2 separate regions of the Homo sapiens genome follow, and region 2 is linked to region 1. Evidence: fine-mapped expression QTL. Tissue or cell type: esophagus muscle. Region 1 holds a variant in brackets; the other region holds the start of a gene. All regions are shown on one strand. Distances are between the middles of the regions.

The links. PIP is the estimated chance that this variant, and not a neighbour inherited with it, causes the effect.
Region 2: NXN starts here. The variant in region 1 is fine-mapped to the expression of NXN in esophagus muscle (GTEx, PIP above 0.99). The same link has a PIP of 0.9 or more in gastroesophageal junction.

The regions. Positions count from the first base shown.
Region 1 is chr17:929,229-937,491 of GRCh38, forward strand. The region is part of intron 1 of NXN (nucleoredoxin); the gene reads right to left. Among named protein-coding and RNA genes, the nearest start is that of NXN, 46 kb to the right of the region's middle. The variant A/G (reference allele first, on the strand shown) is at 4,792.
Region 2 is chr17:976,727-984,726 of GRCh38, forward strand. NXN (nucleoredoxin) reads right to left here and starts at 3,050. Exons shown (of 8, transcript NM_022463.5): 1 at 2,593-3,050. The coding sequence starts at 2,952. RefSeq lists enhancers at 1,963-2,898, 4,323-4,617.

The DNA.
Region 1 (8,263 bases):
CCTCCACTCTGTCCCCCACCACCTGGCCCAGGCCACTCGCTTCACCTGCCTGGCCCTCTACTGGCATTTGAGTTGGTGAGTCCTGCAGGAAAACACTGGTTCACGTTATTAAATATGTCCAATTGGCTACACGTTTTGACTGTGCACGAAACTCCAGCTCGGTCTTCACTTACAGCTTTTGCAGGTTTAGCTCCTGTAGCAAGATCCAACATCTGATCTCACAGCTTCACAATGACAACCTGTCTGTGAAGAACATCCCAGTTTTCCAGTGTGCCCCCCTACCCTCTGGTTTATTTAACCTTCCCAATATTCCAGGAAGGCTGGGCTTATTGTCCAAAATAGAAGGGCGATCAACCAGCTAACAGGAACTAAAACCGGGATTTCAACTCAGGACTTGGGTTCAACCTTAGCTTAGCATTTCCCACCATACCTACCACGCATCCCTCAATCCCTGGAGGCGGCTCTGATTCCAGACTGACCCAACCGGAGGAGGCTCAAGTCCAGGTTGCAAAGCAGCTGGGCTGCTCTGGAAAGAGCGTTTGGAATCCTTGCTTCACTTCCGTTTTTAATCTTCTTAAAAAAAACTGTGTAGTAGTGTTTAATCCAAAGACAGCTGATTCCCATTTACACGTAACCTGTTGAACTCACATACTAAATTTTAAAGCTCTGCTCTCGAAAATGCAGTTTGCTCTTTAAGATCTCCTTGGTAACACATCTAACTGGTATCTGAACTACAGAAAAAAAAAAAAAACTTTGGAATCAATCAATGACGGGGGTTAGAATAAAATCCAACTCAGGAAAGTACCGAAGAAAGTTCCAGAATGACAGCTGTGTAGCCGACCCAGAGAACCACCTGTGTCTGGAATGGAGGAGGACTGGTAACTCCCAGGAAAGGGGACTCTCCAAGTTAAAAAGGGGACTCAGGCTGGGTGCAGTGGCTCACACCTGTAATCCCAGTACTATGGGAGACTGAGGCAGGCAGATCACCGTGAGGTCAACAGTTCAAAACCAGCCTGGCCAAGATGGTGAAACCCCATCTTTACTAAAAATACAAAAATTAGCCAGTGTGATGGCGGATATCTGTCATCTCAGCTACTCAGCAGACTCAGGCAGAAGAATCACTTGAAGCCGGGTGGCGGAGGTTGCCAGTGAGTTGAGATCGTGCCATTGCATTCCAGCCTGGGTGACAGAGCGAGATTCCGTCTCAAAAAAGAAAAAAAAATACCACTTGAACTTGCCACAAACAATATTTACAGACACAACAATGCCCCTATTGATTGACTGGCTGATTTTCAACTACACACAAAGCATGAATCCCGGTGACACAACACAATGTAAATACGAACAACCTTGACAAAGCTAAAGGTACAAAAAATAGGAAGGAAGTGCAGGAGACCTGATGGGCAGGATAGAAAGACACCAACGTTCCCAAAGTCCTATTGAAGGATAAGGAGTAAAGGCATAAACATGTTATTAAATGCTAAAAGTGTAACCAGGAAAACCGTAAATGGTGGTATACCAAGAGGACAAAGAAAGTTGAGTTTGCTTTTTTTTTTTTTTTAGACAGAATCTCGCTCTGGTTGCCCAGGCTGGAGTGCAGTGGTGCGATCTCGGCTCACTGCAACCTCTGCCTCCCGGGTTCAAGTGATTCTCCTGCCTCAGCCTCCTGAGTAGCTGGGACTACAGGTGTGAGCCACCACGCCCAGCTAATTTTGTATTTTTAGTAGAGATGGGGTTTCACCATGTTGGTCAGGCTGGTCTCGAACTCCTGACCTCATGATCCGCCCGACTCAGCCTCCCAAAGTGCCGGGATTACAGGCGTGAGCCACCGCACCCGGCTGGTGAGTTTGCTTTTAAGGGAGCTAAATCGATCTCTAGCCTAGCAGAAAACCAACACATAATGTTGAAGTTCGCCGGGTGTGGTGTCGCACGCCTGTAGGCCCAACGACACAGGAGGCTGAGGTGGGAGAATTGCCTGAGCCTAGCAAGTCGAGGCTGCAGTGAGCTGAGATCGCGCCACTGCACTCCAGCCTGGGCGACAGAGCGAGACTCCATCCAAAAAAAAAAAAAAAAAATTAGCTGGGTGTGGTGGTGTGTGCCTGTAATCTCAGCTACTGGAGAGGCTGAGGCAGAAGAAATGCTTAAACCTGGGAGACGGAGGTTGTAGTGAGCAGAGATCACACCACTGCACTCCAGCCTGGTGACAGAGCAAGGCCCTGTCTCAAAAAAAAAAAACAAGAAAGATAAAGTCATATAATAAGCCTATGTATACTACTTGATTTTGTTTTCGCCATAAGCACATGTTATTTATTTTAAAAAAATTTTTGGCCGGGCGCAGTGGCTCACACCTGTAATCCCAGCACTTTGGGAGGCCGAGGTGGGCGGATCGTGAGGTCAGGAGATCGAGACCATCCCGGCTAACACAGTGAAACCCTGTCTCTGCTAAAAATACAAAAATTAGCCGGGCGTGGTGGCAGGCGCCTGTAGTCCCAGCTACTCGGGAGGCTGAGGCAGGAGAATAGCATGAACCCGGGAGGCGGAGCTTGCAGTGAGCTGAGATCACGCCACTGCACTCCAGCCTGGGCGACAGAGTAAGACTCCGTCTCAAAAAAAAAAAAAAAAAAAAAATTTTTGGCCGGGCGCAGTGGCTCACGCCTGTAATCCCAGCACTTTGGGAGGCCGAGGCGGGGGGATCACTCGAGGCCAGTAGATCAAGACCAGCCTGGCCAAGACGGTGAAACCCCATCTCTACTAAGAATACAAAAATTAGCCAGGTGTGGTGGTGGGTGCCTATAATCCCAGCTAATGGGGAGGCTGAGGCAGGAGAATCGCTTGAACCTGGGAGACGGAGGTTGCAGTGAGCTGAGATTGCACCACTGCACTCCAGCCTGGGCAATAGAGCAAGACCCTATCTCAAAAATAAAACAAAACGAACAATTTTAGAAATGTTTAATTATTTGGAATCCTGGAAAAAAAAGCTAAGGCAAAGCTGATCTGAAGAGTCTGTCTACCTGCCCAGCTACCAACCCAAACCGGCCTTGTTTTGGTCCTAGGCGGCGGTTCTTAAACTCTGGTCCCTGGACGTACGGCTTCCGGGTTGCCTGGGAACTGTTGCTAGAATTGCAAACTACTGGGCCCCAGCCTGGACCTACCAAGTCAAGAACTCTGGGATGGGGCCCAGGAATCCGCATTTAACCAGTCCTTCTGGTTATTCATCAGTTTGGAAACCGCAGGTCTTCAGCAAAACAAAACTCTGAGGCGGCGTTGGGTCCAGTCGTCGTCTCCTCAGCGAGTAAGGCAGCTTCAGGGGAAGGCCTGAGCCCCTTCTAAGAAAACACAGGCTGGATTTTAAAGGATCTCTAGGGCTAGTTTCCCCAGGTTCTGGGCCCCTGCCCTGTGTGAGCTCTAGTGGGGTCAGCAGCAAGGACCCATCACCGGAAGAGGCTTCTGAGAGGCACCGACTTTTGCCATCAGTGGGCAGCGAGTGGGCTGTGTGGTCCCCGGACAAGCAGCTGAGTGGGTGGGGAGTGCCTTGTTGTGGCCGGCTTCGCATAAGTCATCTGCGCCCGCCACCACGCCAGGCTAATTTTTATATTTTTAGTAGAGATGAGGTTTCTCCATGTTGGCCAGGCTGGTCTCGAACTCCTGACCTCAGGTGATCCGCCCGCCTCGGCCTCCCTCAGTACTGGGATTCCAGGCGTGAGCCACCGCGCCCAGCCCAGCCCGTCCTCTTGAACCTGCTCAGTTTCAGTCGTCATGACCACTTGTAATATCCCTTCCCACTAACATCAAAGGCTGTGGCCCGAAGCTCCCAAGTGGGCGAAAAAGTCCCGAGAGGTTCCAGAAGGCAAGATCATTCTGGGGCCACGAGGACCGAGAAACGACACAACCAACCACAGAACAGAAAACTCTTGTGGATCTGATGTGATTCTGTACTCCAGATTTGCAGTTACCACTTACAGAAGCCAACGTCCACCTCTGAAACACAGAACCCCCTAACTGGTGCGAGGCAGCTGAAGACAAAGTTGAGGCCTTTGGGAGAAGAGCTCGGCCAGAGGAGGAAATCTGATTAGTAAAAAGATAGGCAGCCAAGAAGTAAATTAAATGAATGCTCACAGAGAAAGCACTCGAGACAGGAGCGGGAGAGACTCCGGGCACACATCGCGACAGGGACAGAAAAGCTTTCAGGATGGGGGTGGGGGAAGGGGAAGAACTGGTTTTCTAATATTAGACTCACGACATGCTCACTTCCCAAATCCCAGCCAAAATGAGGGCCCCTTGACTCCGACAAGCCCAGGCCACCTTCTGCTTGGATACACACTTTCTGCACCAGGACTCTGCGTGAATGCCAAGGCAAATTCCATCCCTCTCAACTCCCCACCGCAACACCAAATGACTCACACAGCTTATCTTGAAATTCCCCCTTTCATCTTGGCCTCCCACTAACTTAAAACAATGCAATAAGAACACATTCAAGACACCTCCAGTAAATCCATATCCGTATTATTCACGAGGCACTAACTAGAAAGCTGTTTATCCTGAAGCCTACGTGGTCAACTTTAGAAATGTGCCTTCGTGTAAGCTGGTTTTTATAAAATAAATAAAAAGCCTCCACAAATACCAGAACACTTATCAATTTGGACTAAAGTCGTGGATTCCAATACAAGCAGCCAAGGTCCTCAAGCCTCAAGCATAAACATCCCTTGCCTTTTATTAATTGAAAAATAAACAGGAGGGGAAATGGGTGGCATGCCTCACTATGTGATTTAAAACAAATGACACGATGTTCTC[A/G]AACTTCAATTAATTTTTAAAAAGGCATTTTATTTTTCACTTTATGATTATAAAAGTCATACATGCAGACTATGGGGAAATTTAGAAAGTACAATAAGAAGGCCAGGCGCCGTGGCTCACGTCTGTAATCCCAGCACCCCGGGAGGCCGGGCGCGGTGGCTCACGCCTGTAATCCCAGCACTTTGGGAGGCTCAGGCAGGCGGATCACGAGGTCAGGAGATTGAGACCATCCTGGCTAACACGGTGAAACCCTGTCTCTACTAAAAATACAAAAAAATTAGCCGGGCGTGGTGGCGGGCACCTGTAGTCCCAGCTACTGGGGAGGCTGAGGCAGGAGAATTGCGTGAACCCGGGAGATGGAGCTTGCAGTGAGCCGAGATAGCACCACTGCACTCTAGCCTGGGCAACACAACGAGACTCTGTCTCAAAGAAAAAAAAAAAAAGTACAATAAGAAGAAAACTTACTTCTGGAAGTAAGAGAAGTATAGAAAGTCATTTCTGGAAAAGACGCTGAATTGGTGACTTACAGTCAAGAAATTCCCAAGTCTGGCCAAATTCCAACCCAAATTCTCGGCCAGGCACAGTGGCTCATGCCTGTAATCCCAGCACTTTGGGAGGCCAAGGTGGGTGGATCACCTGAGGTCAGGAGTTCGGGACCAGCCTGGCCAACACGGTGAAACCCCATCTCTACTAAAAATACAGAAATTAGCTGGTCGTGATGGCACGCACCTGTAATCCCAGCTACTTGGGAGGCTGAGGCAGGAGAATCGCTTGAACCCGGGAGGCGGAGGGTGCAGTGAGCCGAGATCGTGCTATTTCACTACAGCCTGGGTGACAGGAAGACGCCATCTCAAAAAAAAGAAAAGAAAGAACATTCTTTTAGCCCAGTCCCAAGCGGACTGTCTGGACAGAGTCCTCACTTGCTGCCACTCATTATTGCATCATTTTGCTGTGCTCTTTATTTTTTTTTATTTATTTATTGTTTTTTGAGATGGGGTCTCTCACCCTGTCTCCCAGGCTGGAGTGCAGTGGTGTGATCTCGGCTCACTGCAGCCTCCACTACCCAGGTTCAAGTGATTCTCCTGCCTCAGCCTCCTGAGTAGCTGGGATCACAGGTGCATGCACTACCACGCCCAGATAATTTTTGTGTTTTTACTAGAGACAGGGTTTTACCATGTTGGCCAGGATGGTCTCGAACTCCTGGCCTCAGGTGATCTGCCCACCTTGGCCTCCCAAAGTGCTGGAATTACAGGTGTGAGCCACCGCGCCCGGCCTTGCTGTGCTCTTTAAACAGCCGCAGGACTCTGCTCCAATTCCTTCGTATCTGGGAATCCTCTGGCACAAAACCCCCACCTCCTATATCATGTGGTCTGTGTGACAGCCAGAAACCCCCCAGCTGAAGAACACTGAGAAGTGGGAGGCTTCCGCTCGGTCATGGCCGGCGGGACAAGGAGATGCTTAAAGGTCTGGCAAGGTTGTAGGAAAAGACCAAGACACTTCAGGATCCAGCTTTAGGATGTGCTGGCGGCTGCAACAAACATGCACTCTGATCAATGAGCTCTGCGCTCATTCACTCCACACGTGTTTACTGAGCGTCTACTGTGTCTAAGACCCTGAGCTCTGCAGAACACGCCCAGGAATCACAGAAGGAGCTTGCTCTGAGAGCTGGGAGAGCCTGCTATTCATGCGGGTATTGACTGTTGCCATCCTGCAGAACAAAGCCAGCTTTCATAACATCCCACTAGATACCATGCCAGCCACATCCTTGCCTGGAATAAAACCTGCAGCCTAGGCCGGGCGCAGTGACTCACGCCTATAATCCCGGCACTTTGGGAGGTGGAGGCAGGTGGATCACCTGAGGTCGGGAGTTTAAGACCAGCCTGACCAACATGGTGAAACCCAGTCTCTACTAAAAATACAAAATTAGCTGGATGTGGTGGTGCATGCTTGTAATCCCAGCTACTCAGGAGGCTGAGGCAGGAGAATCGCTTGAACCCAGGAGGTGGAGGTTGCGGCGAGCCAAGATCGTGCCACTGCACTCCAGCCTGGGCAACAGGGCAAGATTCCATCTCAAAAAAAAAAAAAAAAAAAACCTCCAGCTCCTGCTTGTGCTTCCATCGATTGTCCTCCAAAAGATGGCTGGAGTGTGTCCCTCTCACCAGCACGCCACTCGATTCAACCTATGGACTCAAGACACGCCATCGGGCTCAATGCTGTGGGGCCTGGTGGAAGCAACCTCCTGTTGTTAGACCAGAAACGTCCCCTGCGACAAAGCCTTTGGTTTTGCTTTGTGTTCTTCTCCCGTGGGGTGGAAGAGCCGCCCTCCCTCTGAGGCACTGCAGCGACGGGTGCCCTGGTGAGTGTCCACGGTGAGGTGGTGAGTGTGCACCACACACAACCCGGCCAGCATCTGCCCAGGTCAAGCCCATCCTGTCAGTGCACACGCCGCGTGCTGCCACCACCCAGCTCGATGATTCTCTCCTTCCACACCTTCCGGTCCCCAAAAGTGACTGAAAGCAGGATTCTGCTGCGGAAAAACTGGACTTGGAGGAAGGGCAGGAGAGAAGGGCGAGGTGTGTCGGCCTGCCTCAGGTCTGGGGTGCCCAATTCTGGTTGTGCAAACAGTGAGGGAAAAAAAGGGTGCTACGATGTCTGGCTAAAACGGGGCATCAGAGCTGTCGGCGGTACCAGTTTTCAGAATCCATGGATTTATAACGGATTTCTTTTCTAACTTGCAAACGCATACGAGATACTTCACAGAGGTATTACAGTTAAGTCACACTTCCCCACATAAGCTCACCTTTAATGAAAAAGTTAAAATGACATAAAACTGGGAGTGTTCCAGAAAAGGCAGGCCTGTGTTCACCATCACAACACCTATGGATAGAAAAGAGGCAGAAAGGCCGGGTACGGTGGCTCACGCCTGTAATCCCAGCACTTTGGGAGGCTGAGGTGGGAGGATCAGCTTGACCCCAGGAGGCCGAGATTGCACAACCGCATTCCAGCCTGAGTGACACAGTGAGACTCTGCAGCCTTTACTGCAGCCTTTGCCTCCCGGGCTCAAGTGATCCTCCCACCTCGGTGTCCTGAGTGGCTGGGATTACAGGCACCCAGCACCACGCCCGGCTGATTTTTTGTATTTTTTGTAGAGATGGGGTTTCATCATGTTGGCCGGGCTGGTCTCAAACTACTGAGCTCGGGTGATCCGCCCGCCTCGGCCTCCCAAGGTGCTGGGTGCATTTTTTCTTAAGGAAGAAAAAGGAGGGCAGGGGGCAAGGTGCAGGGCAAAAAAGAAGAGCCCAGGAGTCCAAGAGGGAAGCGGCCAGAGGAAACGGAAGGAATCAGCTTCCAACAGGGACCCACAAGGCTGCTTGAGAACTCAGGACACAAGGAACACACCTGGAGAAGGGGGCTCTGCGGTGATCCGTACACAGTGAGAACCAAAGGGGCAGCTTCAGGGAAAACAGGTGGG
Region 2 (8,000 bases), 47 kb after region 1:
TTTGTTCCACATCTCTTTGGTTTCAAGGGGGAAAATAATTCCTTTTTTTTTTTTTTTGAGACAGAGTTTCGCTCTTGTTGCCCAGACTGGGGTGCAATGGTGCGATCTCGGCTCACCGCAACCTCCGCCTCCCAGGTTCAAGCGATTCTCCTGCCTCAGCCTCCCTAGTAGCTGGGACTAGAGGCATGCGCCACCAGGTCTGGCTAATTTTGTATTTTTAGTAGAGACGGGGTTTCTCCATGTTGGTCAGGCTGGTCTGGAACTCCCGACCTCAGGTGATCCGCCCACCTCAGCCTTCCAAAGTGCTGGGATAACAGGCATGAGCCACCGCACCCGGCAATAATTCCTTTTAAAATCAGCACGTAGCTTTTGTAATTTCCAAGAGTATGTGTTCCATAAGAAGGACAGCTGGAGTCTTTTTACCTGGTATATATCCCCGAGAAAGATCTTGAGTGGTTTGTTCACGACCAAGGAAAGAAACTACCTCCTTGAAAACTGGACTGGTTTTAGAGAATAAAGTATAGGATGTGAGTCAGAAAAACTCTGGGCCAAAAAATAAAATGTTTAAGATGCTAACGCACCAGGGTTTGGGCACGTCCAGCACTCTCAACGGTATTTTCAAATGAGAGTCTGCCCTGTGTCATCCAGGTTCTCATCATGGAGGAATCAGCAGGTCCAGGCTAGGGCCGCAGAATACTTTTTGTCATGCAAAGAGCCTGTCCAGGGTATAGAGAGCCAGCCATGGCCCATGTCCTATCAAATATTCTCCTTTTTCGGAAAAAGCTCTAAGCATTTGCAAAACATCTGTTTGCTCCATATTTTTACTATCCAAAAAATGTATTTCCTCTTCAGTAAAAAACACAACAATAGGCTGTTAAGCCTGTAACATTTTACCATAATTCTATGTTTTCAAAAGCTAGAAATCATTTGTATTGCCGGATAAGGACATTATTTTAAGTAGACTTTAGTCTACAACAGAAACTTGCCGTAACAATGAAAATGTTTTTTGGCAAATCCCTTTCTGAACATTATTTCTCCACGAACGTATCACAAAAACCACCACCAAGGAAAACAAAGGATTCTCGTATTTTGAATCAAAAAGTACTGGCCATGCATATTCATACTATATCAAGCATGTCAATCAAAATGGGCAAAATAACCTAAAAAGCAGTAAAAATGCCAACTCTTGCCTCTGAGTGGTTAGTGAACCTATGTTTTCCCAATATGAAATTTACAAACTGCATCGGATCAACTGTATTTCATACTTTAAATCTCGAATCTCTACCTCCCACTGCTTCGGGATGGATGATTTACTCAAGACATTTGGGGTCACAGTGTAAGCCTTTTGCTCCCAGTAAATCTAAATCATGCTTCTCAACAAGATTCTGCACATATAAAAGGAACACGTGGCACGCCTCGCCATGCTCCCCAGAGGAAACTAAACGCCCCCAGAATAGCCCTTCTGTCCACTCCAGAAACAGGCTTTCCTCAAAAAGGGAAAGGGGCTGGATTCACACGTTGCATCATATACACTCACGAAGCAACAGCGCTCCAAAACTTTTTCTGACTCCATTCATTACAAAATGTCCTGGATGTGCTTTATTATCACAGAGACAGACATCCTCACCCAAGGGACACACTCAGAAACCCAAACTCAACTCGGCAGCAAACTGGGAGACACGAGAAGTTGACAGCAAAGTATCCATTTCCCCAAATCCTCCTTCTTCCAGTCAATGTGCATCGATGGGGTCAGCTCAGCCCTTAACTCGAAGACCCCGGGACCACAGGGGCCACCACGCAGCTGAGCTCTGCACAGCCCGGGCTGTTCCCGCGCCCGGGAGGCGTCTGGGGAGGAGGCTGGACGGCCAGACAATGCAAAGCTCCCCGGTGGCCGCGAACTCAGCCTGGGGCGGGGGAGGCGGGGGCGGGAGACGGAGCCGTGAGCGCCCTTCTCGGCCACAGCCACGGCCACGGTCACCGGCCGCCTCTCCTGACCTCGGCCTCGGCCCCCAGGTCCCCGGTCCCCGGGGAAGGGGCTCCGGGAAGGCAGGTTTCTCCCGGAAAGAAAGGAAACGCGCTGGTTTGGGCGCCACGGGCGGGGGGCGTGCGCCCTCCCCTCCCCTCCCCTCCCCACTGTGGGAATCCGCGGGGGTCGGCGGCGGAGGCAGGAAGGGCCTGGCGCCTCTGCTCGCGGGTGAAGGGGTCGCGGAACCGGGATCCCCGAGCGCAGCCGCCCCCACCCGAGGCTCCCAGCGTGTGCGGACGGAGGGGCTCGAGCCGGGATCCCGGGGGCCGAGGGGGGTCCAACTTTCCAGGGCGGGCGCAGCGCAGCACTCGAACCAAAGAGGGGTCCTGGGATGAGGGTGCGGGCACAGCGCGGAAGGGGGGGGGGCAGAGGCGGGGACGGCGGGGTGGGGGGCGGGGAGAGGACAGTGGGTCGGGGGGCGGGGGACTGGGGGCAGGGGTCGGGGGGTGGAGGGCGGGCAGGGGGACAACGGGGTTGGCGGAGGGCAGGGGTAACGGGCGTGGGGGGCGGGCAGGGGTAACGGGCGTGGGGGGCGGGCAGGGGCCGGCGAGGCCCGCGCCGCTCACCTTCCTGTGCTTCTCCTTGTAGGGCAGCGCCAGCCACGGCATGTCCCGCACGAAGTCCTGCCACTGCCGCTGGTCCTGGTCCGAGGACACGAAGACGATCTCCAGGCGCCGCCGCGGCTCGGGCTCCGCCGCCGCCCCGGCCCCCGCTCCCGGCCCCGGCCCGGCCGCCGCGTCCCCCCGCAGGCGCCCGTAGAAGGCGGCCAGGCTGGCGCTGAGCTGCGCGCAGGGGGCGCTGAGGCTGCAGCCGAAGTAGAGACCCAGCAGCGAGATGCCGCGGGCGCCCAGCGAGTGCACGTCCACCTCCTCGCCGCCGCCCGTCACCAGCTTCTCGCCGAGCAGCTCCTCCAGGAAGCCCGACATCCTGGCCCACCGCAGGGCGGGCAGGCGGCTGCGACCCCGCTCCACGGTCCGCGCGGCGGGAGGAGGCGGCGGCGTCGGCGGCAGGCGCTGGGGAGAGCAGAGCCCGGCCCAGTAGGGCCGCCCACGCCACGCCCCCTCCGCCTGCCCGCGCCACGCCCCTTCCCCCGCCCTGCCACGCCCCCTCCGCGGCCCGCGCCACGCCCCTTCGGCTGCCCTCGCCACGCCCCTCCGCCCGCCCTCGCCACGCCCCCTCCGCCCTCGCCACGCCCCGTTTGCGGCCGGCGGTGGCCAGAGCTCTCCGCCCAGGCGGGGTCCGCAGCTGCCGGCCGCGGTGCGCGGGGTGACTGCTTGGGCGAGAAGCCGGACCCGAAACGCCGCACTCTCCCTGGAAAGCCCACGGCCGAAGTGAAGAAAGGAGAAGGGCCCGCTGAGCCGGCGCTTTCCCGGGCTGCAGCCCGGCCCGCATTTTCTCTCCTCCCCAGTTCTAAATTCCCTCCAGACCTCCAGGGATCCCGCCCCCTCCCCGCGGAGCTCTTCACCCTCTTCCTGTTCCTCCCCGGCCTTTCCCTCCTCCTCTCCCTGCACGAAGCCTGACCCTTAGGCCGCTCCGGGCCCCACTGACCCTGAGATGCTTATAGGACCCGCCGTCCTCACTGCATCAGGCCGGGCCTGGCTGGACACTGACTCCTCTGTGTGTTCCAAGCTGTTCTAAGGGGGCCGAGGACGCCCTCGCAGCTTCTGGTGGGGTCTGGTTAGGGTGCCAGGTCTCAGTGTGGGATTTCCGTCCAGGGGTCGCCGGGGCCTCTCCCCCCAGCGAATCTGTCTTCCAGCCCCACAAATGGATGCAAAGGACGCCGCGGGGCCTCCAGACCAATGCTGGCCGCGCTCCTGAATCCGCTCCATCCTCATGTCAAGTCTATGGATAGTTGAGAACATTTCTAGAGATTTTTTTTTTCCTACCAGCTGGCAGGATGCTCCCCAATGCTTAGGGAGAAGCTGGATTAAACAGGTGGTCTGGGCCGGGCGCGGTGGCTCACGCCTGAATTCCCAGCACTTTGGGAGGCCGAGGTGGGTGGATCACAAGGTCAGGAGTTCGAGACCAGCCTGGCCAATATGGTGACACCCCCCCCCCGCCTCTACTAAAAATACAAAAATTAGCGGGGTGTAGTGGCAGGCACCTGTAATCCGAGCAACTCAGGAGGCTGAGGTAGGAGAATGGCGTGAAGCCGGGAGACGGAGGCTGCAGTGAGCCGAGATCGCTCCATTGCACTCCAGCCTGGGCAACAGAGCAAGACTCCGTCTCAAAAAAAACAAAAAAACAGGTGGTCCGTGGCGAGTACTCTGGCCACGCAGCGCCTCCCCCCAACCCAACCCACTGGTGCACGAAGCAGGTGCAGATCCGGGCCCAGCCACAGTAACAGGCCGCCGGTGTGGATCAGCTACTGACGACTCAGCGAAAGCAAAAAAATAAAAGCTGAAAACCCGCCCCTCTCAGAGCTTCCACCGCCGCTTCGGAGGATATTTCCTGTGCATCCATCGCCACCTAATGGAAAGAGTGAAAAATGAGGCCGACCAAACTCCATTTGTGAAAAGACACTGCCGGGACACCAGGCACAATGCTTTTATTTTACAGCAGCTTTCCACATACACAAATGATAGGACGCTTTGCGGGAGCTAATTTAAACCTCAGAATAGAACTTCAAGCTTTTGGCACAAAACGTAAGTGTTCACATCGAAGGTTCTCCGTTTTTCTAGGGTAGAATAAGGAATGGTGCAGGGTTCCAGCTTGGTGAAATGTTACCATATAAAACAATTGGGAGAGGTGGAGATGGGAGCGGAAAGTGGACTGGCGTCTCTACAAGTTATATCCACTTCCTTAGTCACCTGCTGGTATTGCTAATGACACAGGTAAGATCTTAGATGGAGGACCGCCTTCGAACACCCTAGAATCCTACTGCAAAGTCGAATTCCACCTTAATTCTCAGGAGACTTTCATGCTGAAAGTCTGTGCCACTGTAGGGACAATATTATAAAACACACACAGAAAGCATCACTTTTTAGTGAAAACTTTATTTATTTATTTATTTATTTATTTATTTATTTTGAGACAGTGTGGGCGGCAGGCCACCCAGGCGCTGAGGCAAGAGACCGAGGACACAAGCCGTTCCAGTGTAATAAAATATAAAATAAGAATAGTTATACCAGATATAGATCTTAGATAGGCTTATATATGAATATCATTAATCATTAGTTTGTAGCAATTACTCTTTATTCCCATATTATAATGATCCTCGCTCTATAATCATAATCTAGGGAAAACCAGGCCATACAGAGATAGGAGCTGAGGGGACATAGTGAGGAGTGACCAGAAGACAAGAGTGCGAGCCTTCTGTTATGCCCAGACAGGGCTACCAGAGGGCTCCTTGGTCTAGCGGTAACACCAGCGTCTGGGAAGACACCCGTGGCCAGGCGGACTGTGGTGTAGCGGTAGCGTAAGTGTCAAGGAAAAACACCCGCTACTTAGCAGACCGGGAAAGGGAGTCTCCCTTTCCCCGGGGGGAGTTTAGAGAAGACTCTACTCCTCCACCTCTTGTGGAGGGCCTGACTGCAGGTTCGCCCACAATTATCCGGAGGCCTAACTGTCTCCCTGTGATGCTGTGCTTCAGTGGTCACGCTCCTAGTCCGCCTTCATGTTCCATTCTGTACACCTGGCTCTGCCTTCTAGATAGCAGTAGCAAATTAGTGAAAGTACTAAAAGTCTCTAATAATGGTGGAAGCTGTTTCTCTCTTTGTCTCCTCTCTCTCTCTGCCTCGGCTGCCAGGCAGGGAAGGGCCCCCTGTCCAGTGGACACGTGACCCACATGACCTTACCTATCATTGGAGATGGCTCACTCTCCTTATCCTGCCCCTTTGTCTTGTATCCAATAAATATCAGTGCAGCCTGGCATTTGGGACCACTACCGGTCTCCGCGACTTGGTGGTAGTGGTTCCCCAGGCCCAGCTGCCTTTTATCTCTTTGTCTTGTGTCTTTATTTCTACACTCTCTCGTCTCCGCACACGGGGAGAGACCCACTGACCCTGTGGGGCTGGTCCCTACAGACAGAGTCTCACTCTGTTGCCCAGGCTGGAGTGCAGTGGTGCGATCTCAGCTCCTGCAACCTCTGCCTACCAGATTCAAGTGATTCTCCTGCCTCAGCCTCTCGAGTAGCTGGGATTACAGGCATGCACCACCTCCCAAATAGCTGGGATTACTGGCATGCACTAATTTTTTTGTTTTGTTTTGTTTGTTTGTTTTTTGCAACAGAGTCTTGCTCTGTTGCCCAAGCTGGAGTGCAGTGGCGCGATCTCGGCTCACTGCAAGCTCCGCCCCTCCAGGTTTAAGCAATTCTCTGCCTCAGCCTCTGGAGTAGCTGGGATTACAGGCGTCCGCCACCAAGCCTGGCCAATTTTTTGTATCTTTAATAGAGACGGGGTTTTCACCATACTGGCCAGGCTGGTCTCAAACTCCTGGCCTCAAGTGATCCACCCGCCTCAGCCTCCCAAAGTTCTGGGATTACAGGCATGAGCCACCACCCGGCCTTGGTGAAAACATTTAAAGCTACTCATATCATATATATTAAGTTACTAGGCCAGGTGAGGTGGCTCACACCTGTAATCCCAATACTTTGGGAGGCCGAGGCGGGCAGATCATGAGATCAGGAGATTGAGACCATCCTGGCTAACACAGTGAAACCCCGTCTCTACTAAAAATACAAAAAATTAGCCGGGCGAGGTGGCGGGCACCTGTAGTCCCAGCTACTCGGGAGGCTGAGGCAGGAGAATGGCATGAACCCGGGAGGCGGAGTTTGCAGTGAGCCGAGATCGCACCACTGCACTCCAGCCTGGGCGACAGGGAGAGACTCCATCTCAAAAAAAAAAAAAAAGTATATATATACACACACACACACACACACACACACACACACATAGTTACTAGACATCTTTTGAAATCCTGTAAATGGGTTACAATGTTTTATCATCTCATCCAAATCTTATCTGAAAGGCCCATGCACTGGGTACGTGGGTTAGGCACTACTGAAAGAGTGTTAGAGTCCTACACTCTGACACTTTCAAAATTATGAAAACTACAGAAATGTAAAAGGGCTATCAGCATTTACCTGCTACGGCAGCCAAAGGGCAAGAGGCATTTGGTGTGGAGGCCGGTGAAGAGGGAATTTGGGGGGCTGCAAATATTGCAAATATTCGAGTATTAACTTTGGTATACTTGGTGCAAGTCTGATATAAAGAGGAGGTTTCTTCCATGTGTGACTTGTCTTATTTAACAGGAAAGCACTTTCCACTGGAGTGTGTCCAAACCAGCATCTGGCACCTGGGGAAGGGAGAGTTCGAACACACTGCACATGAAATATAAATAAAATTTAGAGAATTGTGGATGCGGCAGGCCTTGGTTAGAGGCCAAATATCACAGCTGCCTTTTAAAGGGGTGTGGAAAGAGGGGATTTGCAATGGAAATGATCCCAGAATCATAATTGTAGTGGGTGTTATAAGAAGCCCAAGGAGTCATTTGGCATCCTGTGAAGAATTAGCCAGTGTGCTCTGGGCTACAGAAATCTTGCTCTCTGTGTATGTGGTTCTCTAAAGGAGAATGTCCCCACTGGTGTTCAGCTAGCGATGTTACATGAATCGACTTGGCTATTCTGAAAATTATTATTGTTTTAAAATATGTAGGAATGAGCCTCAACATGTATCGCATTCTGTAGAACATATTAGAATTTTCTCTTCAGAAATTGCTTTTGAAGGCACATGAAGTCATACGAAATACACACAGCACAAATATATATTTGTCACTTTTAAGATTCATAAATCACAGTCCTTGGACTTTAGAAAGAGTAGCACACATGATGTGGGCCGGGCGCGGTGGTTCATGCCTGGAATCCCAGCACTGTGGGAGGCCAAGGTGGGCGGATCACCTGAGGTCACGAGTTCAAGACTAGCCTGAGCAACATGGCAAAATCCCATCTCTACTAAAAATTAAAAAATTAGCTGGG